7 linked regions of the Homo sapiens genome follow. The protein of the gene in region 1 purifies or fractionates together with the protein of each later gene. This does not show direct contact. Each region holds a gene or a part of one and is shown in the gene's direction. Other genes may lie near its edges. The genes, in order: PTPN14, STK3, ACAD11, INSR, CUL2, WWP1 and AMOT.

Region 1 (4,099 bases):
GTGAGGCCTTTCCAGTCTCCTCTCTGATCGCCTGGCCCCTCACATGTCACACTCCAGCCACCCCGAAGACCTTCGTTTCTTTTTTCTTTTTTTTTTTTTTTTGAGATGGAATCTCCCCTCTGTTGCCCAGGCTGGGGTGCAGTGGCGTGATCTTGGCTCACTGCAAGCTCCGCCTCCCGGGTTTATGCCATTCTCCTGCCTCAGCCTCCCCAGCAGCTGGGACTACAGGCACCCGCCACCGCGCCTGGCTAATTGTTTGTATTTTTAGTAGAGATGGGGTTTCACCATGTTAGCCAGGATGGTCTCGATCTCCTGACCTTGTGATCCACGCGCCTTGGCCTCCCAAAGTGCTGCGATTACAGGCGTGAGCCGCCACGCCCGGCTGACCTTTGTTTCTTGAATGCACGAAGCTTGTTCCTGCTTCTAGACTGCACTTGCACTTCTCTCTAACATTCTACTGCACCTCGGTTGTGAATCTTTTAAATTTTCCATTGATGTAACTGTCATTGTAAATTGTGTTATTGGTCTTAACTAGCATGTATAGGATCTACCCTGTGGTAGACACTGCAGAGTGCTACTGAACTAGCGATTTAGAAGCTATTTGCATTTTCTTCTGTCTTCATATCTTAGGATTAAAAGGATGAGAGCTTCCCTTGACCTATTTCCAATTTTGCTTTTATATGTGATTTAGGAGGGTGGACGAACCAAAAGCCACCGATACTGGCCCAAACTAGGTTCAAAGCACAGCTCAGCCACCTATGGCAAGTTCAAGGTCACCACGAAGTTTCGAACGGATTCTGTTTGCTATGCAACCACGGGCTTGAAGGTCAAGCACCTTTTGTCTGGGCAAGAAAGGACGGTGTGGCATTTACAATATACTGACTGGCCAGATCACGGCTGTCCAGAAGATGTCCAAGGATTTTTATGTAAGTGTTTTTCTTCCCAGTCTGCTACCTGACTGACTTTTATGATCTGTGTCAATAATTCATCTGTTGGAGATGAAATGGAAAAAGAGGATGCTTTCTCTTAAGTGGCAAAAGTATTATAATATTGAAATATATATTCCTTTCTTACTATGTAGAACAGAGTATAATAATACATGTCACTTATTCTGTTTACCTTTCATGCACGTAAGCTAAGACTGTGATCAACATATTGGCTCTACCTTGATTCAGACCTTTAGCTACTCATTTAATCAGTAACTATTCTGACACATGTTACAACAAGGATGAACTTTGAGGAATGATGCTGAGTGGAAATAATCCAGTCACAAAAGGACAAAAACTATGTGATTCCACTTATATGAGGTTCCTAGAATAGGCAAGGTCAGAGACAGAAAGTAGGTGAGAGGTTACCAGGGGCTGGGGCAAAGGGGGATTGGGAAATTACAAATTTTTTTCTGAGGCGGAGTCTCGCTCTGTCACCCAGGCTGGAGTGCAGTGGCACAATCTCAGCTCACTGCAACCTCCGCCTCTCAGATTCAAGCAATTCTCCTGCCTCAGCCTCCCAAGTAGCTGGGACTATAGGCACAGCCACCACATCTAGCTAATTTTTGTATTTTTAGTGGAGATGAGGTTTCACCATGTTCGCCAGGCTAGTCTTGAACTCCTGGTCTCAAGTGATCTGCCCGCATCAGCCTCCCAAATTGCAGGGATTACAGGTGTGAGCCACTGTGCCCAGCCAGGAATTACATTTGATGGGTGCAACATTTCTGTTTGGGACAGGGAAAAAGTACTGGACATGGATGATGGTGATGGTTGCACAACTATGACTATGCTTAATGCCACTGAACTGTGTACTTAAAAATGGTTAAACTGGTAAGTTTTATGTTGTGTCCACTTTAGCACATTTTAAAAAAAAGGAGAAATAAAACTTAAAAATAGGCCGGGCATGGTGGCTCACACCTATAATCCCAGCACTTTGGGAGGCCGAGGTGGGCGGATCACCCGAGGTGAGGAGTTTGAGACCAGCGTGGCCAACATGGTGAAACCCCATCTCTACTAAAAATACAAAATTAGCCAGGTGTGGTGGCGCATGTCTGTAATCCCAGCTACTGGAGAGGCTGAGGCAGGAAAATTGCTTGAACCTGGGAGGCGGAGTGAACCAAGATTGCATCATTGCACTTCAGTCTGGGCAACAAGAGCAAAACTCCATCTCAAAAATAAATAAATAAATAAATAAATAAAAACGAATAACATTAAAAAAATTGTTTTCATGAAGGTTTGCATCTCACAAGACCTATATTTCCCTACAGTTGAGCATCTCAGTACTTTCTCGTACTTTCTCATATTTTTATGAAGACACTAAGAAGTATTGAAACCCTCTTGTAGTTTTTGAAACTGAAATTTGCTCAATGGCTAATTCATTAATTTCTGTGTATGTGTACTTTTAGAATGTGGTTATATTAGAAACTAATTCACCAGATTATGTGCAGTATTTTTATTTGAAAGACCCAAAATTGGGCATGTACCCACTACGTGCCAGGCACTGGATCGGGCTCTGAGAATGCAGAGATGACACTGAGTTCAGTCTTCACTTCCGACGTACTCAGAGCCTAATGGGAAAGACAGGCCAGTCATCATCGTCCAAAGATGAGATCTGATACCCTCCTCTGCTTTTCAGCGGTGGCTGCAGCTCTCCCTCTTGCTTTCCACATGCTCATCTAACTGTCCTGTGCTTGTCAGGAGACCCCGTTCTTTACTCACCCACCTGGAAAGGAGCCCCAGATGCTCCCTGTAGCCTTGTGCCTGCTCTGTTGTTGACTCTCCAGCTAGTGGAAGACCTGTGACCACCATGGAGGGACCATGATCCAGATGTTGGATCATGTCAAAACCTTGATTTTATTTTGGTATTCATTTAGAATGGGAGAAAAGGGGAATGACAGAGGGAGAGAACAGGTTCTCAAGACCTAAAAATACTGATTTACAAGTTCCAATAAATATTCCGATGTGTACTTATCCAGCAATACAAGCATTTCATTTCCTTGAAAGTGACGATGGTACTTGAGGGGTTTGGCACTGAAAGCAGAGAGTAGAAGGATGATTGGAGTCAGAGAATCTAGAGTAAGATCCAGAGAGGACTCGTGATTTGCCTGAAGTCAAATGGCTTGTTATCTGTAGCTTGAAATAAGGGCAGTGACCTTTACAGAACTTCTTTTCCTCCTAACAGTGCTCATTGTATTTCTTTCACCTGATCACGTGCTAATTGACTTATTAAAATTTTCTCCAAGAAGCAAAAAAGGGAAATAATATAAATAGATCAGTTTGTTGATTGGCTAACAGCTCTGATGAAAGAGTGAGCTTATAAGGCACTTTAAAGTATAGTCTTTTAAATCAGAACCAATTAAGGAAAGCCTGTCTAAATTACCAAAAAAGACATAGTATTTTTTTTTTTTTTTTTGAGATGGAGTCTCACTCTGTCACCCAGGCTGGAGTACAGTGGCAAGATCTCGGCTCACTGCAAACTCCGCCTCCCGAGTTCACGCCATTCTCCTGCCTCAGCCTCTCCGAGTAGCTGGGACTACAGGCGCCCACCACCACGCCTGGCTAATTTTTTGTATTTTTAGTAGAGACGGGGTCTCCATCTCCTGACCTCGTGATCCGCCTGCCTCGGCCTCCCAAAGTGCTGGGATTACAAGCGTGAGCCACCGCGCCCGGCCAATACATAGTATTTTTAAAGAATGTAAATGTATGTATTATGCTTTTAGGAAAGTCAATACACGTATTCTGTGCAGGGCATTAGAAATGTTGAATCTGTTTCTCCTAGGTTTTAAAAGATTTTTGCCCATGTTTAAATTAGATTACCTGGATGCAGAGTACCTGAGCCAAATTGTTTACTGCCCGCCAGAAGTCTTTATTGAGTTACAGCGTAAGGAACTTTATTAGTATGACTGATAGAGGAAACATCCTTTGAATCCACCTTCTCTCCATTACATGAAAAGCTCTATTTGAAAGTGGCATCTACCGTATTACCCAACATTCCTTTTATTTTTCTTCTTAAATTTAGCTCAAGTAAAGCTTTGTCTCTTGTATGTAAATATTGCCTTTGGTCAGATAGAATACTCAGTTGCCTAATGTCTTTTCCCCCTCGCAGAAAAATT
Region 2 (4,099 bases), on another chromosome or scaffold:
TTCTCAGATCTCCAGCTGTGTGCTGGGAGAACCACTACTCTCTTCAAAGATGTCAGACAGGGACATTTAAGTCTGCAGACGTTTCTGCTGCCTTGTTTGGCTATGCCCTGCCCCCAGAGGTGGAGTCTACAGAGGTAGGCCAGCCTCCTTGAGCTGTGGTGGGCTGCACCCAGTTTGAGCTTCCTGGCTGCTTTGTTTACCTACTCAAGCCTGGGCAATGGCAGGCGCCCCTCCCCCAGCCTCGCTGCCGCATTGCAGTTTGATCTCACACTGTTGTGCTAGCAGTGAGCGAGGCTCCATGGGTGTAGGACCCTCCAAGCCAGGCGCGGGATATAATCTCCTGGTGTGCCGTTTGCTAAGACCATTGGAAAAGCACAGTATTAGGGTGGGAGTGACCTGATTTTCCAGGTGCCATCTGTCACCCCTTTCTTTGACTAGGAAAGGGAATTCCCTGACCCCTTGCACTTCCCAGGTGAGGTGATGCCCCGCCCTGCTTCAGCTCATGCTCAGTGCACTGTACCCACTGTCTTGCACCCACTTTCCGATACTCCCCAGTGAGATGAATCTGGTACCTCAGTTGGAAATGCAGAAATCATGTGTCTTCTGCAATGCTCACGCTGGGAGCTTTAGACTGGAGCTGTTCCTATTCAGCCGTCTTGTCTCCATCCCTATTTATTAGTTCTAATAGGTTTTTTTTGTGGAATCTTTAGAATTTTCTACATATATGATCATATCATCTGTGAACAGAGATAATTTTACTTCTTTTTTTCCAGTTTGGATGCCTTTATTTGTTTTTCTTCCCTAATTGCTCTGTCTAGAACCTCCAGTACTATATGTAACAGAAGTATTAGGCTGGTGCAAAAGTAATTTCGGTTTTTGCCATTACTTTAAAAAAAAAATGGCAAAAACTGCGATTACTTTTGCACCAACCTAATAGCATCCTTTCATTGTTCCTGATCTTTGTGGAAAAGCTTTCAGTCTTACTGCTTTGAGTATGACATTTACTTTGGGTTTTTTGTATATGGCTTTTACTATGGTGAGATAGTTTCCTTCTATTCATATTAGTTGTGTGTTTTATGAAAAGAAGTTAAATTTAATCAAATGCTTTTTCTGTTTTCATTTGAAATGATCATGTGGTTTCTTCTCCATTCTGTTAAGGTGGTGTATTGCATTGTTCGATTTTGTATGTTGAATCAACCTTGCATTCCAGGAATACATTCCAGTTGGTCATAGTGTATAACCTGTTACAATCCTGTTGAAGTGAGTGTGCTATATTTTGTTGAGGATTTTTGTATCAATGTTCATAAGGGATATTGGTCTTAGTTGTTTTGTGGTAACTTTGTCTGGCTTTGATATCAGAATAATGCCTCTTAAAATGAGTGTGGAAGTGTTCTCTTTTCTTCAGTGTTTTAGAAAATTTGAGAAGTTGAATCAAGATATTTTAATCTTTTTTTTTCCTTTTTGTGGAGTGTATGTTCCCAGATAGCCATTCACATGGTTGGCCCCATTATATCATTTAGACTTCAGTAAAATGTCTTTTGGGCCTTCTTGAATGTCAATCTAAAGTAGCTTCTCAGTCGTTCTCTATCAGTAGCTCTCTATTGTTGTCCTCATAGCAATTTTCACAGACATTTTCCTGTGTTATCCTATTTTCTATCAAATTATCCCGTTGCTTATAGATAGAATATAAGCTTGAGAGCAGTCCCTAATCATTTAGAATTTTTATGGTTGATTCTGTTACATAGGCATGATTGATTAAGTCTTTGGACATTTGTGCTTAACTAAATCTCTACCCCCTCTCTCCTTGCAGCCCTCCCGTAAGTCAGGGGTCAGGCAGAAATTTCCAAACATCTAATCACTTGGTTGGTTTTTTCGGCAACCAGCTCCCATCCTGAAGCTATCTAGGCTCCCACCAAGAGTCACCTGATCAGTATAAATTCTGGTATGGTTGAAAGGAGCTTATTATGAATGACAAAAGACAGCCCCTCTCACTCTTGTGAGAGGGTGAGAAAACAAAGATAAAATATCTTGATTCAACTTCTCACTCACTCAGTCAATTCACAGGGTCTTAGGAGATTTTGTGCCAAGAACCTACAAAGACCAAATATTTCCTGTGATTTCATAATATCACACTACCTTACAAGGTTGTTTTAAGAATAAATGAGAGAATGCATGCATAACTCTTAGCACATTGCCTGGTACAGATAGCAGTGGCTCTACTGCTACAACTGTTAAGAAGATTTTCTTTCTTTCCCATCCGTCTCTTCCTCGGCCTTCTCTACTCTCCCCTTTTTCCCTCCTCTGATAGTCTTTGCTTGTGTTTCCATTTTCCTAATCTTTCTCTGACGTTTTTTCTTCTGAGTTCTCAATATTAGGTCAGAAGTCCAGAACTTGGAAGGGTTAGGAGTGGCATTGGTGTAGGAGCTTCTCGCAGAAGATTCATTGCAAGCCTCCCTCCCTCATTTACTTTCCTTTATGTAAAGCTGTTGGTTTCATTTTCATCAAGAATCTGAAATATCTCAGGGGAAGTATCTGAATTTACTTTTTCAGAACAGATATTAGCTGTGATAGTGCCCTCCCAGTATTAGAAGATGTGGGAAATCACTATTATGATTCCTTATATCAGGCTGATTCTTGAGATATGTTGTTTGCTTTAGGAATGATACTGATAATTTTTTTTTTTTTTTGAGATGGAGTCTCGCTGTGTCGCCCAGGCTGGCATGCAGTGATGTGATCTCAGCTCACTGCAACCTCTGCCTCCCAGGTTCAAGTGACTCTCCTGCCTCAGCCTCCTGAGTAGCTGGGATTACAAGTGCACGCCATCACGCCTGGCTAATTTTTGTATTTTTAGTAGAGACGAGGTTTCACCATGTGGGCCAGGCTGGTTTTGAACTCCTGACCTCAAGTGATCTGCTCGCCTCAGCCTCCCAAAGTGCTGGGATTACAGGTGTGAGCCACCACGCCCTGCTGATACTGATAATCTTAAAGAGAGAAATTTGATCATCCTTTCATTAGTAAAATGTGTAATAAGAAAGCTTATTGTGGGAAGAAGAGGTTCTCGATTATTTACCCCTTTAGCATTTTCCTGGAGGTTTAGCGGTCATTAGAAAGAAGTACTTGTGGCTAGGCATGGTGGCTCACACCTATAATCCCAACACTTTGGGAAGCTGAGGAAGGAGAATTGTTTGAAGCAAAGAGTTCAAGACCAGCCCGGGCAACATAGCGAGATCCCCATCTCTACAAAAATAAAAATAAGTTAGCCTATTGGGTTGGCATGTGCCTGTAGTTCTAGCTACTCGGGAAGCTGAGGTGGGAGCATGCCTTGAGCCCAGGAATTTTAGGCTGCAGTGAGCTATCATCACACCACTGCACTGTAGCCTGGGCAACAGAGTGGGGTCTCTTAAAAAAAAACACACACACACACACGGAAAGACATACTTGTTACTAGTGCTCTTTCGTAAGATTTTATCTAACGTGGCATTTTAATTATGGTTTTAAAAATATTTCTTTCCAGTTAATAGAAGATGAAATTGCAACCATTCTTAAATCTACATTGAAAGGACTAGAATATTTGCACTTTATGAGAAAAATACACAGAGATATAAAAGCTGGAAATATTCTCCTCAATACAGAAGGACATGCAAAATTGGCAGATTTTGGAGTGGCTGGTCAGTTAACAGTAAGTTAACTTTAATGGTTTTCTAAACACTTGGCTAATTTGTTCAGATTTGATTATAACTAAACTTCAATTACTTTTTGAGGGGGAATGGAAAGAAATGTGTAGTTTTTTAATTTTTGTGGAGAAGGAACCATAATTGAGCCAAATTTGAGTATTATTTAATTTATAATTTAGGGTGATTGAATGTGAAAATATATCTTATAATCAAAATGCTTAAATGTTCTAAAAGGGAAGCTACGTAGCTCATTTCTGTAGCTTTTATCATTGTAGCACTATCTTTAATGACTGTGTTTAATGATGGTAGTGTGGATAAGTTACCTGTGGACTCTTGGTTATTTTCAGAATTCGGAATTCCTAAGTATGTCATAACTAGTTGAAATTTTAGCAAAATAGTCAATTTCTGATATAATCTGTGGCATT
Region 3 (4,099 bases), on another chromosome or scaffold:
TAGAACATGATCTGTAGGCCTCTATTTGTTTTAAGAAAACCTCAGTACTTTATGAATTCAAGTATTAGATATAAGTTAGAAGCATAAATAACTTTGAACACTGTATGCCATCCTCTTGCTTATTAGAATACTATATCCCTTTCAAAGAACATCTAGAATACCACCTCTTCCAGGAATGTTTTTGTGTTCATCCCATCCATTCACCAGGCCCCTGATACCTGCCAGGCCCTGAGGTTATAATGATGAACAGAAAATCTCTTCTTCCTTTGCCTTTGTTTCTCTCTGTATCTCTTACCCTTACCCACTCTTCTGGATTCTAAACTCCTAGTACAGGGACTATGTGTTATTCCAACTTTGTATCTATTGCAGCATTAATAAAATAGCTTATGCATAGTACATACTTAAGAGACAGTTCTGAAATTTGAAATGTTTAATGGTGGTGGTTTTAAAAACATAGAAATCAAAATTCCCATGAATTCATAGTGAACCTTATTATAGAACTGACTTTTTTTCACTAGAAAGCCATTTTTATTAAGGGCAGCTCATCTCTTTCCCAGGATTTGTATAAATAACAAAAGGAATGGGCTAGGCCATTTTCACATTCCCCCTTTTTTTCCCCTTTCTTCCCAGGTGAAGGTAGGGGATTTGAAATTTCCCAAGGCCGCCTTGGACCTGGCAGAATCCACCACTGTATGAGAACAGTAGGTTTGGCGGAACGCGCTTTGCAGATCATGTGTGAGCGGGCAACACAAAGGATAGCTTTCAAGAAGAAGTTGTATGCACATGTGAGGACGATTACTTATTTGAATTTATTGTAGCCCGGTGCACTACACTAACATTGAACAAAAACATTACTTGTGAGAGACAGACTTTCTCTACATGAACCGGGTGATTCTTTTCAATAAGGCATATTTATGTCTGTATTTAAATATAGTCTAATGAGAGGTATTTATCTTTATGAAAAATTAAATAGTTCCTAAAATGCTTCAACACCTCTGCACACAAGAGTGTAGACAGTTCCTTCAACTTTCTCAGATTCTTGTTCTTTAGAGAACCTGGAACATTAGAGCTCCCTGTGGACATGAAGGAGCTGTCATAAGGAAGAAGGATTTGCCTTGTCCATTGGTTTCCTAGAAGGAATTAGGACACATAAGTGTAAAGTTACAGGAAAACAGCCCAAAACTCAGGGAAAGGAGAAACATGCTAATAAACCTAAAAGTGGAATCAGCTTCTTCAGGAGGACTTGAATTCTGTCACTGGAGAAACACAAGTAGAAATGGGACCAACATTTTGTGAGATATTCATGACTTTTTGAATTATCATCTGTAAATTATATACTACTGAGTCTGTTGTTACAAATCACTGTAAACATAGTTACATGTGGCCCATATAATAAAAATTAGGAAATATGGCCAGGCGCAGTGGCTCACACCTGTAATCCCAGCACTTTGGGAGACCGAGGCGGGTGGGTTGCCTGAGCTCAGGAGTTCAAGACCAGCCTGGGCAACATGGTGAAACCCCGTCTCTACTAAAATACAAAAAAAAACAAAAAAAATTAACCAGGCATGGCGATGTGCACCTGTAGTCCCAGCTACTGGGGAGGCTGAGGCAGGAGTATTGCTTGAACCCGGGAGACAGAGGTTGCGTTCAGCCAAGATCGTGCCACTGCACTCCAGCCTGGCGACAGAGCGAGACTCTGTCTCCAGAAAAAGAAAAAAAATTAGGAAATATGTATTGAGATGAAATAGAAGGTATTATTTCAGACTTCCTTAAAAAGTCTTCTACAGAGAAGTAGGATATCCACATCATCTCCCTTCTAAGTTTTAAGAAGGCAAGAAAAACTATTATTAAATGTTCACTCTTTATTATTGCTAACATGTTAGTGTTAGGTCAAATCTGTGGTGATGGAATTGTATTTGTGTTTGCTGCACATGTATATTTTAGTATGTCGGTCTCCTTATACATTTTTGACCATCTTATGAAATTTGCAGTATGTATTTTTTACCTTAAATTATTATAATCTATGTTTGCTTTTTGTAAAGTATTATTCAGCATTATATGATTTATTTGTATAGTTTTTTAACTGAAAAGCTACAGCCCGCTTTATGACACTACACCTGGGAATAATTTGTCAGGAGCCCTTTTAGTATACAGCGAAGGCAAGTTTTTAGTATACAGCAAAGTTCAGCTGTTGGCTGGGCACTGTGGGAGGAGGTGAGAAAGTGTGACCCTCTGGGGCCCTGGATACAGCCTCTGATGCTGTTGAAGAAGGATGAAGAGGTGCTCAGGGCACCAACCATTACTTCTTACCCTTTTGTCAAGCTTGCATGCAAACTCTGGAGCAGGGTGAAGGGAGGACACAGTAAAGTCGACAAACAAGCATCGCGAATGCACAAAAGCCCTCTGTGCAAGTGCTGCTTTCCTGAGTGGTGTTTTAATACTGCATTAGTAAAAAATTTCCCTTCCACCTTTTAAAGTTAATGTGTCATGCAGAGCAAGCCTGGCTTTTTAACAAATATGCCTGTTTTCACTGGAAACTTTTCACATCTGGCACAAATAACGTGATCTGGCAGAAACAAAAAGATGTGTGAGCATGTCATAAGCAAAAATCTGGGCCAGCTTTTTTATTTTAATTTGTGAAAGGAACATTTCATTTCTTTGAATTTGGAGGCTCCTTCCAGCTGCCTTCTAATTTACTCCAGGCTGTAACGCAAAAAATTCTCCATCCCAGTTCTGTCTTAGGAAATATATTTGGCAGTTCCCTAGAGCACCTAGTTTCTACCCATTTAATGCTTTTCAGCAAATCTAGGGTCTATAGAGACCCAACTGAGAATACCTCCTTTATTCTAAAGCTGAGAAGTAAATGTCTTCTAAGTCTGTTCATGAAGTTATAAAGTTGTAATTATCCTGTTTTACAGCCATCAAAAAATATTTATTCACCACCAGCAACTTGTTTGAAATTAATTCAGAGCCATGTTTCAACCTCTAGGGCAGTGCCATCCAAAAGAAATATACTATGAACCTTAAATGTTATTTTAAATGTTCTAATAGCAACATTTTTAAAAAGTGAAAAGAAAAAGATGGAATTAATTTTAATAATATATTTTATTTAACCCAATATATCAAAAATACTATTTCAACATGAAATCAATATAAAAATTATTAATGAGATACTTTATATTTTAATATTTATTCTTCAATATGGGGTGCATATTTTATACTTATAGTACATCTCAGTTCAGACTAGGTATGTTTCAAATGCTCATTAGCCACATATGGTTAGTAGCTATCATGTTGAACATCACCGCTTTAGGGAAACTCTAATCAAATATCCCCTGTTGAAGGGCAAACATGACCAAGCATAAAAATGGCCAAGGTGTGCATGTTCTCACTCATAAGTGGGGAGATGAACAATAAGAACACATGGACATGGGGAGGGGAACAACACACACCGGGGCCAGTTGGAGGGTGGGGGCAAGGAGAGGGAGAGCATTAGGACAAATAGCTAATGCATGCAGGGCTTACAACCTAGATGACGTGTAGATAAGTGTAGCAAACCACCATGGCACCTGTATACCTATGTAACAAACCTACACATTTTGCACTTGTATCCCGGAACTTAAAATAATAAAGAAGAAAAGAAAGGAAAATAAAAGGACAATTAAACGTCAAAAAAATGGCTAAGATGTAAGGAAGGTGCGCAGTTTCAATCCCCTGCAGATGGCTAGCAAGTTATCCCAGCACCATTTATTGAATAAGGGAGTCCTTTCTCCATTGCTTGTTTTTGTCACCTTTGTCAATGATCAGATGGTTGTAGGTATGTGGCCCCATTTCTGGGCTCTCTGTTACATTGGTCTATGTACCTGTTTTTGTAACAGTACCATGCTGTTTTGGTTACTGTAGCCTTGTAGTATAGTTTGAAGTCAAGTAACATTATGCCTCCAGCTTTGTTCTTTTTGTTTAGGAGTGCCTTGGCTATTTGGGCTCTTTCTTGGTTCCATATAAATTTTAAAATAGTTTTTCCTAGTTCTTTGAAGAGTGTCATTGGTAGCTTGATAGGAATAGCATTAAATCTATAAATTGCCCCAGGCAGTATAGT
Region 4 (4,099 bases), on another chromosome or scaffold:
GAAGCCAACCTCGGCCTCATTGAAGAAATTTCAGGGTATCTAAAAATCCGCCGATCCTACGCTCTGGTGTCACTTTCCTTCTTCCGGAAGTTACGTCTGATTCGAGGAGAGACCTTGGAAATTGGGTACGTGGGCCTGATTGTGTGTATGGCCTGAGTGCTAACTAGGAAGTTCGTGTATTAGAACAACTTAAGGATTTTTTTGGCCAGGTGTGGTGGCTGATGCCTGTAATCCCAGCATTTTAGGAGGCCAACGTGGGTGAATCACTTGAGGCGGGGAGTTCAAGACCAGCCTGGCCAACATGGTGAAACCCTGTCTCTACTAAAAGTACAAAAATTAGCCAAGTGTGATAGTGCATGCCTGTAATCCCAGCTACTTGGGAGGCTGAGGCAGGAGAATAGCTTGAACCTGGGAGGCAGAGGTTGCAGTGAGCCAAGATCACACTACTGCACTCCAGCCTGGGTGACAGAGTGAGACTCTGTCCAAAAAAAAAAAAAGAAAAGAAAAGGAAAAACTTAAGGATTTTTTAAAAATCAAATAAAAACAAATAAAAAACAAATAAAAGTATATCTGGCAAAACCTCGGGAAAAAAGAACTTGGAATGTGCCTAAAGGTCCATCCAGCCAAAAATTGTAAAAGCTTTTTTATAGTCATTCTTGAGAAACAAAAGTGGGAGCAGCCCAACCTTGGTGCCCATCCTCCAAGGGTACAGGCTGGAATTTTTGCTAAATTTGCTGTTTGGGCTGCATTGTGAGTAGAGTTTGGCATGCATAAAATGAACATTCCCTCTTAGTCCCGGTTGTCCATCCTAATTTCTGGGATGGACTCCATCTCAGTATATTCCAGTATATTCCAACCTTCTCCTTGAGGTCCTAGAAACTCTATTAGCAAAACAGCAGAAACTCAAACTAGCTAGATCAAGATTGACTCATAGGCAGGAGGTCTGTGGAAGACCCAGATTCTTTCCATCTTTGTGCTCCTCATGGTCACAAGATGGCTGCCTCAGCCCCAGCCTCACATCTGTAGAACAGACAGCAAATGGGGAAAGGGACAAAAGGACATGTTAATCAACATGAGCTGGTAAGTGACTTGAGAAGGTGGTCTAAACAATATAGTTTAGACTATATTATCTGTACTCCAGCCTAGGCACCAGAGTGAGAATCCATCTCAATAAAACAAACAAACAAACAAACAAAAACCTTCAATGGCTCCTTTCTCCTTATTAAGGATGGCCACATGTTCTTGGTCTTGGTCTGGCATGCAATATACTAGAGGGTCTGGTCCATTGCAACTACAGCTATTTCCTGTCACCTATTGGCCAAAACAGGCTACTTTGCTCTTCCCTGAACTCAGCTTAGGTGCCTCTGTGTTATCAGTATTTCCCCTATTTGCAGAAATTGGTTTCTGCAAAACCTATTCCTCAGTCCATCACAGACTCACCACCCCTCTTCAAGACTGAGCTGAGCCTCCTTCCTGGCCATGAAAACTTCCTCAACTTCCTCTGTTATCCACATTCAACAAATATGTGTTGAGTATGTGCCAAGCAAGTGGAGAGGATTAGGCACGTAGCACTGAACAAGATCAACTCCGAGCATGGCCACACCATCTTGGAGTTGTAGAAGACCAGCCGTTGAATGACTAGATGTGTGTGTTTTTTCCATAGGAACTACTCCTTCTATGCCTTGGACAACCAGAACCTAAGGCAGCTCTGGGACTGGAGCAAACACAACCTCACCATCACTCAGGGGAAACTCTTCTTCCACTATAACCCCAAACTCTGCTTGTCAGAAATCCACAAGATGGAAGAAGTTTCAGGAACCAAGGGGCGCCAGGAGAGAAACGACATTGCCCTGAAGACCAATGGGGACCAGGCATCCTGTAAGTCACTGGTCCCCAACCTTTTTGGCATGAGGGACCGGTGTAGTGGAAGATGGTTTTTCCATGGACTGGTGGTGGGTGGGGATGGTTTCAGCATGATTCAAGTGCATTACATTTACTATGCACTTTATTCCTATTATGATTACATTGTAATATATAATGAAAGAATTGTACAACTCACCATCATGTAGAATCAATGGGAACCCTGAGCTTGTGTTCCTGCAACTAGATGGTCCCAGCTGGGGGTGATGGGAGACAGTGACAGATCATCAGGCATTAGATTTTCATAAGGAGTGTGCAGTCTAGGTACCTCATGTACACAGTTCACAATAGGGTTCACACCCCTGTGAGAATCTAATGCCGCCGCTAATCTGACAGGAGGCAGAACTCAGGTGGTCATGCAAGCGATGGGGAGTGACTGTAAATACAGATGAAGCTTCACTTGCTCACCTATCACTCACCTCCTGCTGTACAGCCCTGTTCGTAACAGGCCATGGATAAGTACTGGTCTGTGGCCCAGGGGCTGGGGACCCCTGCTGTAAGTGGTCCACAAACCAGATAATGTGGCTGTCCTCTCTCATCCATCACAGTCACCCCCAGGGGGTATTACTTCCCTCTAACAACTCACTGTGTGATAGGCTTTCTTACTGAGGGCAGATTCTGCACATTTATTAATATTATCACTATGCTTACTGTGCCATATAGTACCGGATACGGGATGAAGTCATACAAGCACTGAATGAATGGATGAATGAATGATGGATGAATGGATGACACCTTCTTATATGTGTATCAGGCTGATGCTGAAGACTTCAAAGTTGAGTAAAATACCTATGTCAGTCTGCATCTCCTGGGAAGTGACTGCCAAGTTGAAGTTAGGAGTGCAGAAAATGTATTGAGGGTAATATTCATAAAATATGAAACAGAGGAAGAGCTTCTTTTTTTTTTTTTTTTTTTTTTGGGACAGAGTCTTGCTCTGTCACCCAGGGCTGGAGTGCAGTGGCGTGATCTTGCCTCACTGCAACCTCCTTCCCCTGGGTTCAGGTAATTATCTCGCCTCAGCCTCCAGAATAGCTGGGATTACAGGCACATGCCACCAAGCCCGGCTAATTTTTTTTTTTGTATTTTTAGTAGAGACAGGGTTTTGCCATGTTGGCCAGGGTGGTCTTGAACTCCTGACCTCAGGTGATCCTCCCGCCTCGGCCTCCCAAAGTGCTGAGATTACAGGTGTGAGTCACCACGCTCAGCCATGAAGAGCCTTTTGACAATAGCGTGTGTCTGACCTCTGTGAACAGAGAGCGGGAAGGAGGGAGGATAGGGCTGGGAGAGTCTCAGATGGTGATGCATCCCTGAGTCTTGGCCAAACCCAGAAAGAGATCAAGGCCACGGTTGTCTGCAGGGAAGTTCTGCATTGCAAAGGGACGGCCAGGCATCTACCAAGCTCAGTCATAGGTGGGGGCTGTCCAGGGAGAGTCAGGTTTTGGCTGGAATGCTACAGCAGGTCCTGCAGTTTCTGCAGCTGCAGGCTGCCTGCTGACTGCACTTCCCTGACAGATTCTAAACAGTGAGCTGCCAAGGGCTTCTGGGATACCTTCATGGGGAGTTAGTTACTTATGTCAAAATGTAGTGCAAGGGCTGGGCATGGTGGCTCACGCCTGGAATCCCAGCACTCTGGGAGGCCGAGGCAGGCAGATCACTTGAGGTCAGGAGTTCGAGACCAGCCTGGCCAATGTGGTGAAACTCCATCTCTACTAAAAAAAAAAAATACAAAAACTAGCTGGACGTGGTGGTGGGTGCCTGTAATCCCAGCTACTTGAGAGGCTGAGGCATGAGAATTGCTTAAACCCGGTAGGTGGACTGCACTCCAGCCTTGGTGACAGAGCAAGACTGTCTCAAAAAAAATGTAGTGCAAGGAGAGAGAGCGAGGTTGGGGTGAGGTTTAGGAGAGGGTTTGTCTTCTAGGCAGAGAGAATTACTTAGATGCGTCTCTCCGATGTCTAATGATCTGCAGGGTCTCTAAACTCACTTGGCATAGGTTTATTTGCACTGGAGTTGCACCTCCTTCCAGGTCAGTCTTACAAGTCCATATGCGAGACAACGTTGTGTCAGGACAAACATCACCCTTGGAAATCCCTTCCTCCAATAACTATTGGCCGGTTGTCCTTCTTGCGCGGGTACAGACTGCGCTTATTCAGTTGACTGTCTGGCTGAGTCAAGTCAT
Region 5 (4,099 bases), on another chromosome or scaffold:
TTTGACTTTATTGTTTTGAAAGATGAAAGAAAAAGTCTTACCATGCCAACGAAAGAAATGTCTTTATTCAAATGTTTTAAACCTAGAATTTGTTGGACTCATTTTGGAATTATCAGATTATTAGAAAGCTATTGATAGGCTGCTGCTTAGCCATACGGAGGGTGTCCATTGAACAGTTGTTAACTTTCCACAGGAAAATAAGCTCGCCATTTTTAAATAACTGTGTTTTTGTGTAATTGGCATTGATAACGTAGTTTGTTGTCATGGTAGTAGTATTAATCAGTGGTAATATAGACGACTTGCAATTTGCCTCCTTTCCATATCCTCTGAATTTGGTTGTCCAGGAAGCAAATTTAGATTAAAATAATCTTCTGTAAGTATATGCTTGCTGCCCCAAATACCCAAAACAATAACCCTCATATCCCTAATACTCATCTTTCTCGAATACTTTGCCAATCACATGACTGTAACAGTTTGTACTGTAACAGTTTGTCTTTCCCATCACCAAATCTTGTTATTACTGGTAATGTTTGATGAGCAAGAGAGAAATAACTTCAAATGTTACTGTCTCTTCTTAAGTAGAGCTGTTTGCCCTTCATCTATAAGATAGTATCTGTGTATAGACGTCACTGTTCAGGAGCACTTTTTAGAGGCTGTTACCTTAGCTGCAGATTGGTTTTTGGCAAGTAATAATTTTTAGTTTTTATGTTATGCCACAATAATGTGTAAGTTTTCTATTTTTTTATTTCTTCAAATTCCCTTTACCACAGTTTTCTATTTTTTGTAGAACTATTAGTTTATAGTATTCAGGTTTATTACTCTATTATTTGTCAAACTTACTAGTTTACATTATTACGTTTATAGATTCCATGTCCAATGACATTGGGCATAGAAGCATCGAATTTTGTGTCAAGGCTGGGAGATGGAAACATAAGTGAATACATTTGTGGTAGACTCAAATCCAACTGACTTAGTTAAGTCTTAGGTAGTAACTTCTTCATGGTTATCTCCATTAAGAGGGAAAACTCACTTTTGTACTATTAGGTATTTCTTCTCTCTGAGATGTGAGGGATTGTCTTGCCGAGTTCAAGGGGTCTCTGTTCTCAGGATTATTGGCTTTTTAACTCTCCTTTCTCTCAGCCTTTAGTGACTTTGCAGGCAGTCTTTGCTTATTTAAGCCTCTATGAAAGTGATAGACCTGGTAGTTCAGGTCTTGTTATCCTTAAGATAAGTTATTCCAACACAGTAGAAAAGTATGCTTTTGGTGGGTTCTTCTGACAGGTACTAGACAGTCTATGACAGCTTGTTGTGTTGAATGACAAGCTATTTTCTTTCTTCCTTTTTTTTTTTTTTTGTTGTTGTTGTTGTTTTTCTGAGACGGAGTCTCACTCTGTCGCCCAAGCTGGAGTGCAGTGGTGCGATCTCTGCTCACTGCAACCTCCACCTCCCTGGTTCCAGCAGTTCCCCTGCCTCAGCCTCCCGTGTAGCTGGGATTACAGGTGGACGCCACCACGTCTGGCTAATTTTTTTGTATTTTTAGTAGAGACGGGGTTTCACCGTGTTGGCCAGGATGGTCTCGATCTCCTGACCTCATGATCCGCCCGCCTCAGCCTCCCAGAAGTGCTGGGATTACAGGTGTGAGCCACTGTGCCCAGCCTTCAACACCAAAGTTGTAAATTTCTAAGACCGTCTTAGCTAAAACCATTTTCTGAGAAGTGTGCATGTGTGAAACATAATTTCCTTGAGGAAAAATTTACTAATAAGTCTAATAAACCTCATAGTTTGGATATCCTTGAACCTCTTAAAATGTGGTTTTGTACTTATATTTCATTTTTAGATGCCAACACTATTTGTGGAGTCAGTTTTGGAAGTGCATGGTAAATTTGTTCAGCTTATCAACACTGTTTTGAATGGTGATCAGCATTTTATGAGTGCGTTGGATAAGGTAAGTTTTAAATACATATATACTATATATGTACATAAAACTCTATCATTCTTTAGGCAGTTTCAAGATCAGAATTCTAGTATGAGGTTTCTGATGTAGACATGGAGATTAAGTAATTTTGATATGAAATTCAAAATAGAAATAATATAATTTTTAAATTATTAACTGAATAGTTAAATTGAATGCTTGTAGAATGTCCCGTGATTATGCTATATAAGGGGAATTTTTAATCTGATATGTTCTGGATAGACATGCATAATTTTGCAATTTTTAGTACTGATTTTTTTTCTTTGGCCATAATACTTAGGCTATATTGAATAATATTTGAAAAGAGAATAGATATGTTTTACATGAACTTTTGCATACGTTAAAGGAAAGCTGCTTACAAGATTGTAAGTTTTTTTTTAAGTAACGTTATTTTATCTGTTCAAATTTCGATAATGAGTTACAGAATATCTTGGAATAGCAACAGGATATATAGATATTTTGTAATTAGAGAATAAAGTCAGAGGAGTCTACCATGTTAGGCATGAAAATATTAACAAACTACCGGCAATGCTGTGTTTTATGTGGCGGGGTAATTTTTGGATGTACAGATTATGGCTTATATTGAACTAGCTGTACTTTTTCCCTATGGCTGGTGGTTAATTATGGCGTGTTTTTTTATTCAGGCCCTTACGTCAGTTGTAAATTACAGAGAACCTAAGTCTGTTTGCAAAGCACCTGAACTGGTAAGTTTGGTGGTTGCTGAAAAGTAATCTTATGAAAAGTCAGTATTAGAAAATGAGAACTCAGAATATCAAATTAATTTGGTTTTTGTAGCATTTTTCAGAAAAATAGAAGGAAAATTATCTACATTGTATATAGTTTGGCATTTATGTAAGGAATGCAATATACTATGTGTCTTAAAGAATAACCATTTTACAAAGTTTGGGTTTTAATGTATATCTACTTTGAAATAATTTGCAATACTTTTCATGTAGATTCTGTTACATCTGAAATCTAAAGGAAATCTGATGATAAAGTTTGGGTAACCTTTGAAGGAAACTTGCTTACAAGATTTTTGTAACTTTTTTTTAAAGTACTTGTTCAATGTCAAAAATTATAAAACCACTCGAAACTCACCTAGGTGTTCTTTTAAAAATTTGTATTACTTATATCAGTTGCTTTATTGGTCAATAAGTGATGATTTGATATTTGACTTGTTCTTTTTAAAAATTTACCTTATGATGTATATTTTATTTAGTTTACATTTATGATTATTACATAAAGCTTTAGAAGCCTGGTGTGGTTGTGCATGCCTGTAGTCCCAACTACTTGGGAGGCTGAGGCAGGAGGATCCTTTGAGCCTAGGAGTTTGAGGCTGCAGTGAGCTATGATCTTGTCCACTGCAATCCAGCCTGGCAACAGAGCAAGACCCGGTCTCTAAAAAAAACAGCAAAAATTCTGTCCGCTGATCTTACCTTGTATCACCACTTTGCCTCCTTTGAGGCGTGATATATACAGAAGCACCCTTTGTAAGATTTATTATCAATTTCTACATGAGCTTGCTAAGTACTGTGACAACTTACTGAAGAAGTCAGCGAAAGGGATGACAGAGAATGAAGTGGAAGACAGGCTCACGAGCTTCATCACAGTGTTCAAATACATTGATGACAAGGACGTCTTTCAAAAGGTATGTTGTGAACAGAAAAGTTTCATTTGTATTTTGGTCAACTTTATTTCTGAATGCTAAATCATTAGAAAGGAAGTAATCTTTTAAAATATTTTTAAATGTAGTTCTACGCAAGAATGCTGGCAAAACGTTTAATTCATGGGTTATCCATGTCTATGGACTCTGAAGAAGCCATGATCAACAAATTAAAGGTAATGTAAGTCTTTAATGTGGTATTGTCCTAGAAATTCATTCACAAGCACATAAAGATGTTCATTGCAGCATTGTGTACAGTAACAGGAAACAATTCATCTGGTTAAATGTGTATTTGTGTAGTCACACAGTGGGATATACAAATACTGTATTAAAAGGACAAAATGTATATGTTTATATATGAAGATTCACAAGATAATCAGTATTAATGATAAAAGATTATTACTACTTATAAATGAATACACCTAAAATATTCCTTTAAGTACAGATTTTGGAGTGCAATTCCA
Region 6 (4,099 bases), on another chromosome or scaffold:
CATCTCAGAATTTCTTGGAGCTTTTTTTATTTTCGAGGCAGGATTTCTTTCACTCCTGTCCCTGTGGCTGGAGTGCAGTGGCGCCTTCTGGGCTCATTGCAACCTCCGCCTCCCAGGCTCAAGAGATTCTCCTGCCTCAGTCTCCCGAATAGCTTGAACTACAGGCGCTTGCCACCACACCCGGCTAATTTTTGTATTTTTTTTTTAGAGATGGGGTCTCACTATTTTGCCCAGGCTCGTGTTGAACTCCTGAGCTCAAGTGATCAGCTTGCCTTGGCCTTCCTAAGTGCTGGGATTACAGCGTAAGCCACCCTGCCGGGCCTACTGGGAGCTTTTTAAAACAGTAGAACCTTCAGGTTCTTCTGTGTACTGATAAGAACTCTTACTGTAGAGATATGCTGTATATATACAGAAACACAATATTACATTTGTGTTGTGGTTTACAGTTTACAGAGAATTTTGACTAATGTTATTTGCTATTATATTACACAATAAACTATTCCTGGAGTTTAAATGATTTGCCTGAAGCATCATTCAGCTGGTGGGTAAAGTGGAATCAGGAGATTGTTGACAATGATGGTGTTCTTTCATGTATGAAGATAATGCAGTGGCTTTACCATCAATTAAATATAGTTACTGCCTTTAAATGACCTTGTCAGTAAGACTAGATGATCCCACAAGATTCCTTCTAGTTTTTAACATTTTGTGATTCTCGAGTCCTAGACTTTCATCAGAGTATCTACTCTCCTTGTTTAATATGTGCATGAGAGCTGGTGAGTCTGAGGGATGAATTGGGTAGAGAAGAGCAGTTAGCAATATCAGATCATTCATTTGGATTGTTACTTTCTTTGTATGTCTCACTTTGGGCTGGGGAGTAGGGAGGAGAGAGGTGATGTAAGTGAAATAAGAAACTTTAAGAACTTTATTGGGAGGCTGAGGCAGGAGGATGGTGTGAACCCGGGAGGCGGAGCTTGTAGTGAGCCGAGATTGCGCCACTACACTCCAGCCTGGGCAACAGAGCGAGACTCTGTCTCAAAAAAAAAGAACTTTATCTTCTCTGTTCATTTATACCTTCAGAATATTCTTTTCTTTCAGGAAGCCTTTATCAAATAAAAATGGAGACTTCACAATGTAAATGAAGATTCCTACTCAATTTTTTTTGGGTGGATTAAGTAGCTAGCTAGTACGGTTAAAGTGTAGTGCGATTGGTAAACAGTTGACTTTTCTGCACCTGTAAGATTATCTCCCTGGTAATAGGTAATCATAGCATGTTATTACATGTTAATAAACTTTGATTTCATAATTATTAGAAAGACTGTTGTTTTTTACTCTTTGTATAAAAATATGATACAATTATAATGAGCATTGGAAAATCCAATAAATTGCCCTTTATAGTGGTATCCAAGGAACTAGTTACTAATACTTAATGGAGGAAAAATGATAAAAACATACACAGATGAATTTTATTGTTTTTGCTGGCATTAAGAATTGTACTATACCTTATGTTAGTATAGCATTTCACATTTGTAAATAATAACTATATTTATCATTTGGTTCTCATGACAACTGATAAGTTGGTGTGTTAGGAAGTAATAACTGCTTTATATTTTATTTTATTTTATTTTATTTATTTATTTTTGAGACAGGGTCTTGCTCTGTTGCCCAGGCTGGAGTTCAGTGGCACAGTCATGGCTAAACTGAAGCCTAGACCTCAGCCTCCCAAGTACTTGGGACTACAGGTGTATGTCATGACACCCAGCTAAATTTTTAAAATTTTTTATAGAGATGGGGTCTTGCTGTGTTTCCTCAGGCTGGCCTCGAACTCCTGGACTCGTGGCCCTCCCACCATGGCCTTCCAAAGTGCTGGAATTACAGGCGTGAGCCATCGCTTCCAGCCAATCATTGCTTTTTGGATGAATATGCTGAGGCTAAAAAAAAAGTTTAAAAAGTTAAATTTCCAAAGTATGTGGCTAGTTAGTGGCCACAATTAGAACTACAACTAAAACCCTTATTTTTGTTCCTATGTCAGTATTCTTTTCCCACCAGACTTCTTACTCTTCATGTACAATGGAACATCATTAGTTAAGAGCTGTATGTGAAGGATTTGAATTTACCTGTTTGGAATGTGTTAAACTTTTGTACCGTGTAGAGGTAAACTTGTCAGTTTTTTCCTTTGTGTTAAAATGGTAATCTCACTGCAGTGGCTATTGGTAGGTGATATTTAAATTTGTAAGCATTGTACCACAGAATAGTTATTCTCCTGTCAAGGATAAAGCAAAAGTTGATTTCTTATCTGGAAAAGTACATTGGTGAAATGTAGATATTTATTTTTTTGAAAATTTTGAATTTAATTCTGTTGCTTTTACAGATGAAGTTTGTGTTTCCCTTTTATAAAAGCTTAGTCTTCAAAAATTTACATTTTTTGAGGATATAAATGAGGATCTAATTTCCAAAATATATATAGATTGGGTATCCCTAATTCAAAGTTTGAAATGCTCCAAAATGGGAAACTTTGAGCCACCTACATTACTCAACAGAAACATTCACTGGAGTATTTCAGATTTTGGATATTTGGATTAGGGATACTCAACCTGTATCATGATATTTTATTATTTTTGTATTAGATCATAAGCTCTACCATTGAAAAAAACCCAAAGATATTAAAAAGCCCTCCTTAGTGGATGCTTCAATTCATACATTTAAACAACTTTTTTAGGGAATGTATAATGTAAAACCATACGTCAGATGGTTTTTAAGTTATAAGGAAGACTAGCATGGTTTTTAAGTTATAAGGAAGAGTAGCATTTGTTGATTTAGTCTTGACATTTCTTTTTTCTTTTTTTTTTTGAGACGGAGTTTCCCTCTTGCTGCCCAGGCTGGAGTGCAATGGCGCAATCTTGGCTCACTGCAGCTTCCGCCTCCTGGGTTCAAGAGATTCTCCTGCCTCAGCCTCCCAAGTAGTTGGGATTGCAGGCATGCACCACCACACCTGGCTAATTTTGTATTTTTAGTAGAGACGGGGTTTCTCCATGTTGGTCAGGCTGGTCTTGAACTCCAGACCACAGGTGATCTGCCCGCCTCAGCCTCCCAAAGTATTGGGATTACAGGCATGAGCCACCACGCCTGGCCGTCTTGACATTTCTTAAATCTACAGTTCACTCACAGCACATACTGGCGTACCTACTATGTGCCAGACATATTTCTAGGTGCTGGGAGTACAGTGTTGAGATGACAGATATGAAGCCTTTCCTCTTGGAACCTGGAGTTTAGTGGAATCACTAACATTAACAAGGGCATAGAACTTTATCTTCTCAGGTTGTAATTTTGCGGAGTGTAATTAATTATACCTCTCCTTTTTCTGGGGTTTGAACAAATTATGCAGAACACACAAGGAACCAGGTGAGTGTTGTTTCAGTTATGTACTGCTGTGTAGCAAACAGCCCTAAACCAAGTGACTTAAAACAACCATTTTCTTTGTTACAGTTTTGCTTTCCTGGGTTGGGCTCAGTTGGGCAGGTTTTGCTGGTGATCACTCTAATGGCTGCTTTTCTCTCCAAGTAGCCTTTCCAGCAGAGTTGCTGGCCTTACCTGGTAGCTGATGGCTTAGGGCTCACAAGAGTACAAAACAGAAGCAACCAGATCTTTTTTTTTGAGAGGGAGTCTCACTCTGTCACCCAGGCTGGAGTGCAGTGGCTCAGTCTTGGCTCACTGCAACCTCCACCTCCCAGGTTCAAGCAATTCTCCTGCCTCAGCTTCCCGAGTAGCTGGGATTACAGGCGTGCACCACCATGCCCAGCTAATTTTTGTATTAGTAGAGATGGGGTTTCACCATGTTGGACAGGCTAGTCTGGAACTCCTGAGCTCAGGTGATCTGTCCGCCTCGGCCTCCCAGAGTGCTGGGATTACAGGCGTGAGCCACCGTGCCTGGTCTGCAACCAGATCTTCTTAAGGTTTAGACTTGTAAGGGATACAGTATCATTTCTGCCTTATTATACTGGTTAAAGCAAGTCACAAATCTAGCCCAGGTTCAAGGGTACAAATGTGTGAATCCATTTGGGGCCACCCATGTAACAGATTACCATAAATTTTATTTAAGTAT
Region 7 (4,099 bases), on another chromosome or scaffold:
TAATATTTGCTTGTGACACATACTGATGATAGCCAGTAACTGAAACCCAGCCATTGTAGTGTTTTATACACAGCTGGATTTTATTAATGATGGAATATTTATGCTTGCTGTACAATTCGTGGCTCATTTCCATGTGTATGTCAGAACTTAAATACCCCCAAAAGAAACATTAAGATAACATGAAATATAAATGTGGCCAAGCTAGAAAGGGTGGATTTGGTGGAGAGTCTCCCTTCTTCTTATTGGTGTCACATCAGATCACAATAACTGTGCCGCCCCCCTATCAACCTTAGGCATTGATACTGATCTTTTTTTCCCCTTATATATACCCCATAGCAAACTTCACATTTCAATCTTTTTGATATGGACAAACGATCTGCTCTCCTCTTTATAATGCAGATAAAACTGATGTATGTGTTTTTTAAGAGCATATTTTCCCTGCACATGCTTCTCATTATCCGAGAGGCCTGGACTCAATCAGTAAAGGAGCAGAGAAACCACATAATTGAAAGGAGAATGACGGTGGTGCATACTTGGAATATTTGTGGGAAGGGGATTGCTGACATCAGAAAATGTAGTGGCCTGAGTGTTAACAGCATTGAAGAGAAATCAGCTTTCTGTGTTTCTGTGTATTGAAAATTATTTTTAAGGGAATAAAAATATGGGCCAGGTTTGACATCCTTTTATGAAGTTGCCCTGGAAACTTTGATGAAGATTGTTAAAGAATAGCTCAATTAAAACCTTCCCCATTAGGAAGCTAATTAGTACATCCCTTACTCATTTTGGTTGTTTTCAAGGGGCATGTATTTGCATTGAATTAGTGACATTTGTTCCATGTGATAGCAAACTAAGATAAAAATCACAGATGGGGAAAATTATTTAGATTGCCTGTTTTGAAGAAACCTAATTCCTCTTTATTACATTTAGATTTTCAGTTCAGAGTTTTGTTTTACTATGTTTATATACAATGATCACATTTTAGTGTGGTAGCCAGTTTTGCTTTCTGGATCATGGGCTATAAACCAAAGCTTATTTGAATTTCCCGTATGAATTAGGGAAATAGAACAAATGACAACAAACCATTTTATTAAGGTAAGATTTCATTTTTTTCTTCTACAATTAGTTTCTCTTTGGTCTATGTGTGTGTGCCTGAGAGAGAGAGTAGGGGAGGCAGATTGTTTTTTTAAAAAGCAAACAGTTTTTGAAGCTAAGAAAATTTTGATGACCCCCCCCCCCCCTTTACTCCCAGGAACATTCTGTCTGCCTCAGGCTGGGACCAGTTGGGCTTTGGTTAGGGGAACATGATGAATTTTCTGACCTGGTGCTTTCTGTGACCAGGCTAAGTGGTTCTCCCTTGGAAGCCTGAAGGAAAGAGGTTATGGTGAGAACAGGAGTGCAAGATTTCTAGCAGGTTCTTTTTACTGTACTCCACCTTTTTTTAGGGGGGTGAGTACTTGCTTCTGAGATTTTAGGGCCATTTGCAGTAGAGTCAATGCTTTATAGCCAAATGTAAAATATGGGCCAGTTGTGGCCCTCCTTTCCCCGCATCACTTTAGGTGACGGTCATTCTGTACCTAGGTTCCCATATGCTGTGCCCACGGTGTAGGTGTATGCCTGCAGTAGTTTGTGCAAATAAGAAAGTTAGCTGGGTTATATGATTTGTGGTTTAATCTCACCTTAGTCCTTCTTGGGAAGGCAGGGTTTAGATTCAGTTCTGCAGTGGCACCTCAGGCAAGGCAGGTTCCCTGTGCTTGCAAGGCAACAGCAGGAGGAGGAGGGGCTGCCTTCTGCCTTCAGAGAGTGACTCAGGCCCTTTGGTATGAAGATATGAAATGCTGGCTCCTGTCCATACACCTGCTGGATGCCACACCTGCAGTCAGCACCTGAGCCCCACTCAGACACAAAAACCAGACTGAAGGCAGATGGGGCTCCCTTGAAAAGGGGCACAGCGAAACAGGGAGCTCTCAATTATGTTAGTAGAGCCCCACTGGGAACTGGGTTTAGTCATCCCAGTGTTGGCGTGGGGAAACAGATTACTTTCTTTTAGATGCAGCTCACTCACTTGCTCAAGATACTGTTAGAGTGTTTCAGGAGTTTGCTTTCCTAATGAATTTCTCTTGTGAACTGTCCTCTTAAAAACTGGAGGGGCAATTCTGTGGAGGGTTATGTCTTAGAACCAAGCACAGGGCAGGAAGTCGCAAGACCTGGGTTCCAATGCTGGCCCTACCAATGGGCAACAGTGAAATTCTGGTCCAATTAGTTATGATTAGCTATCTGTTCTGGACTTGAGCTTCCCTCTCCAGTTCTAAAATGGAATTAATCACATCTGCCTTTATTTCCCCACAGAGCTGCTAAGAAGGACAAATAAGATAGCAGAGTGAAAGAGCTTTTGTCTCCTTAGAAGGAAGGCTGAGAAACTAAAGGTAATAATAACATTATTATTATTGTTATTCCATGTCTTTCTTTGTTTTCTTCTCCTGCTGTGGCCTCTAGCAAAGTTTTGGGGAAGTTATCATTCACTCAGTATGCAACTATTAAGCACATTTTATGTACCAGTTAATGTTTTAGGTATTGGGATGCATACAATGAAAAATCACGCACCCCGCCCATGCCCTCTAAGATCTTACAGTCTAGCAACTTCCCTTTCCATTTCTGGCTCAACCCGTAATAGTGATTGCTACCAGGGCACTCAGAAGCTTAAAAGGTGAGAGTTAACTTCTTTTTTTCTCTCCACACTACAGCTGGGGATTTCTGTCCCTGGAGCTGTGTATTGCAAGGTCTAGCTTGGAGATATATGGGAGGAAAGGCCATCGGGATAAATAAAGGAATTTCTTTCCCTCCCACATTTGCAAAGTACCTAACCCTTGAATGATCTTTTTTTTTTTTTCCCCAGAAGTCCATGTTTAGTTTCATCCTGGGTTCTGTTCTGTTCCTAGTCAATATGGTCCAGCCCTCTCTTATGACCTTAGCTGTCATCCATATGCTAATGACTCCCAAAGATATATCTCAACCTATCTTTGATGTCAAATTGGTCATCACACTCCATGTCTTCTACTCAGCTTATAGGTTTTTGATATTTTCCTCCTCTTGGGAGCTTTTTCAGGTAGCCCAGGGTTTTTTGCAGAGCCCTATGTGTTGCCGGAGCTATTAGCTCATACCTCTGTTTTCCCGTTGAATTGGGCCTCCTCTGCCTGACTGGGAGCTCCTCAAGTACTGGGCTCTCTTTTTATTTATTTATTTATTTATTTATTTATTTATTTATTTATTTATTGCCACCCTAGGCCTTACCTAGCACAATGTCTGGCTACAGTAAGTGCTCAGTAAAAGTTTATGGAAAATTTGCTGTGATAAGTGTCATCATAGAGAATTCATTTTCCATGTTGAGCAGAGTTGAGGTCAGGAATAGATGGAGAGGGATTAGGGAAAAATCTTCAAAGAGAAGATGGACAGCAGAACTGCCTTATTTTGAGAGTTCTGGCTAAGAAGTCACGGAAGGAATGCCTGTTGTGTCCACTGTTGTTAAACCAGGGGCATCTCTGACCTATTGCCTCCCCTGCTTTAGGACCGGATGATTTTTATGGTCAGGTCTGCAAATCAACCTCTGTCTATAATACATTGACCATTTAAGACAGGTGTCACTTAGTCATCTAGTATTAAACAGGGCTGACCTTAAATGTGCCACCTTAACTGAGGCTGAAAATAGAGCTACACACACAGGCTCATTGATCATGCCTGCTTAGTTCTATACAGCAAAATGTCCCTTAAGATATATTGAAGATTGGGATCTAAAAACTGACAAATTCAATTCTCAGAATGTAAGCAGGTTGGGTCACAAGAACTGAATGTCTTCAAGCTGACTGTCAGATCTTTCCAAGGGCAAAAATGAAAGATGATATAAGCTATTACAGGCCATGAACCTGTTTTCACCCACCTGATGCTTTTACTAATTAGCTTCTTGGCTGGGTGGCAATTTGGGGCAAGTGCATGCAAGCTGGATTCACAGGGGAGCCCGCATTCCACTCTGCCATTTCGCAAGCCACTGGGATACTACACTGCTTCTCTTGGCTTCTTTCCCTCCCAGGAGCCCTGCTCTGCCCTG

The links.
Region 2: the proteins of PTPN14 (region 1) and STK3 purify together in Homo sapiens (affinity purification with mass spectrometry, with the first as the bait; 2 studies listed by BioGRID). This does not show direct contact.
Region 3: the proteins of PTPN14 (region 1) and ACAD11 purify together in Homo sapiens (affinity purification with mass spectrometry; 2 studies listed by BioGRID and IntAct, with this or other methods). This does not show direct contact.
Region 4: the proteins of PTPN14 (region 1) and INSR purify together in Homo sapiens (co-immunoprecipitation; one large-scale study listed by IntAct). This does not show direct contact.
Region 5: the proteins of PTPN14 (region 1) and CUL2 purify together in Homo sapiens (affinity purification with mass spectrometry; 2 studies listed by BioGRID, with this or other methods). This does not show direct contact.
Region 6: the proteins of PTPN14 (region 1) and WWP1 purify together in Homo sapiens (affinity purification with mass spectrometry; 3 studies listed by BioGRID). This does not show direct contact.
Region 7: the proteins of PTPN14 (region 1) and AMOT purify together in Homo sapiens (affinity purification with mass spectrometry, with the first as the bait; 2 studies listed by BioGRID). This does not show direct contact.

What each region holds. Positions count from the first base shown.
Region 1 is NC_000001.11:214,366,284-214,370,382, reverse strand, and holds part of PTPN14 (tyrosine-protein phosphatase non-receptor type 14), read left to right. Parts: intron 1-691; coding exon 692-926; intron 927-4,099. UniProt on the Homo sapiens protein: Protein tyrosine phosphatase which may play a role in the regulation of lymphangiogenesis, cell-cell adhesion, cell-matrix adhesion, cell migration, cell growth and also regulates TGF-beta gene expression, thereby modulating epithelial-mesenchymal transition.
Region 2 is NC_000008.11:98,706,727-98,710,825, reverse strand, and holds part of STK3 (serine/threonine-protein kinase 3), read left to right. Parts: intron 1-3,514; coding exon 3,515-3,679; intron 3,680-4,099. UniProt on the Homo sapiens protein: Stress-activated, pro-apoptotic kinase which, following caspase-cleavage, enters the nucleus and induces chromatin condensation followed by internucleosomal DNA fragmentation.
Region 3 is NC_000003.12:132,572,458-132,576,556, reverse strand, and holds part of ACAD11 (acyl-CoA dehydrogenase family member 11), read left to right. Parts: intron 1-630; coding exon 631-785; intron 786-4,099. UniProt on the Homo sapiens protein: Acyl-CoA dehydrogenase, that exhibits maximal activity towards saturated C22-CoA.
Region 4 is NC_000019.10:7,168,316-7,172,414, reverse strand, and holds part of INSR (insulin receptor isoform Long preproprotein), read left to right. Parts: coding exon 1-125; intron 126-1,663; coding exon 1,664-1,878; intron 1,879-4,099. UniProt on the Homo sapiens protein: Receptor tyrosine kinase which mediates the pleiotropic actions of insulin.
Region 5 is NC_000010.11:35,031,012-35,035,110, reverse strand, and holds part of CUL2 (cullin-2), read left to right. Parts: intron 1-1,837; coding exon 1,838-1,945; intron 1,946-2,616; coding exon 2,617-2,676; intron 2,677-3,491; coding exon 3,492-3,620; intron 3,621-3,724; coding exon 3,725-3,811; intron 3,812-4,099.
Region 6 is NC_000008.11:86,345,389-86,349,487, forward strand, and holds part of WWP1 (NEDD4-like E3 ubiquitin-protein ligase WWP1), read left to right. Parts: intron 1-4,099. UniProt on the Homo sapiens protein: E3 ubiquitin-protein ligase which accepts ubiquitin from an E2 ubiquitin-conjugating enzyme in the form of a thioester and then directly transfers the ubiquitin to targeted substrates.
Region 7 is NC_000023.11:112,830,618-112,834,716, reverse strand, and holds part of AMOT (angiomotin), read left to right. Parts: exon of another isoform or gene 1-1,092; intron 1,093-2,346; 5' UTR 2,347-2,423; intron 2,424-4,099.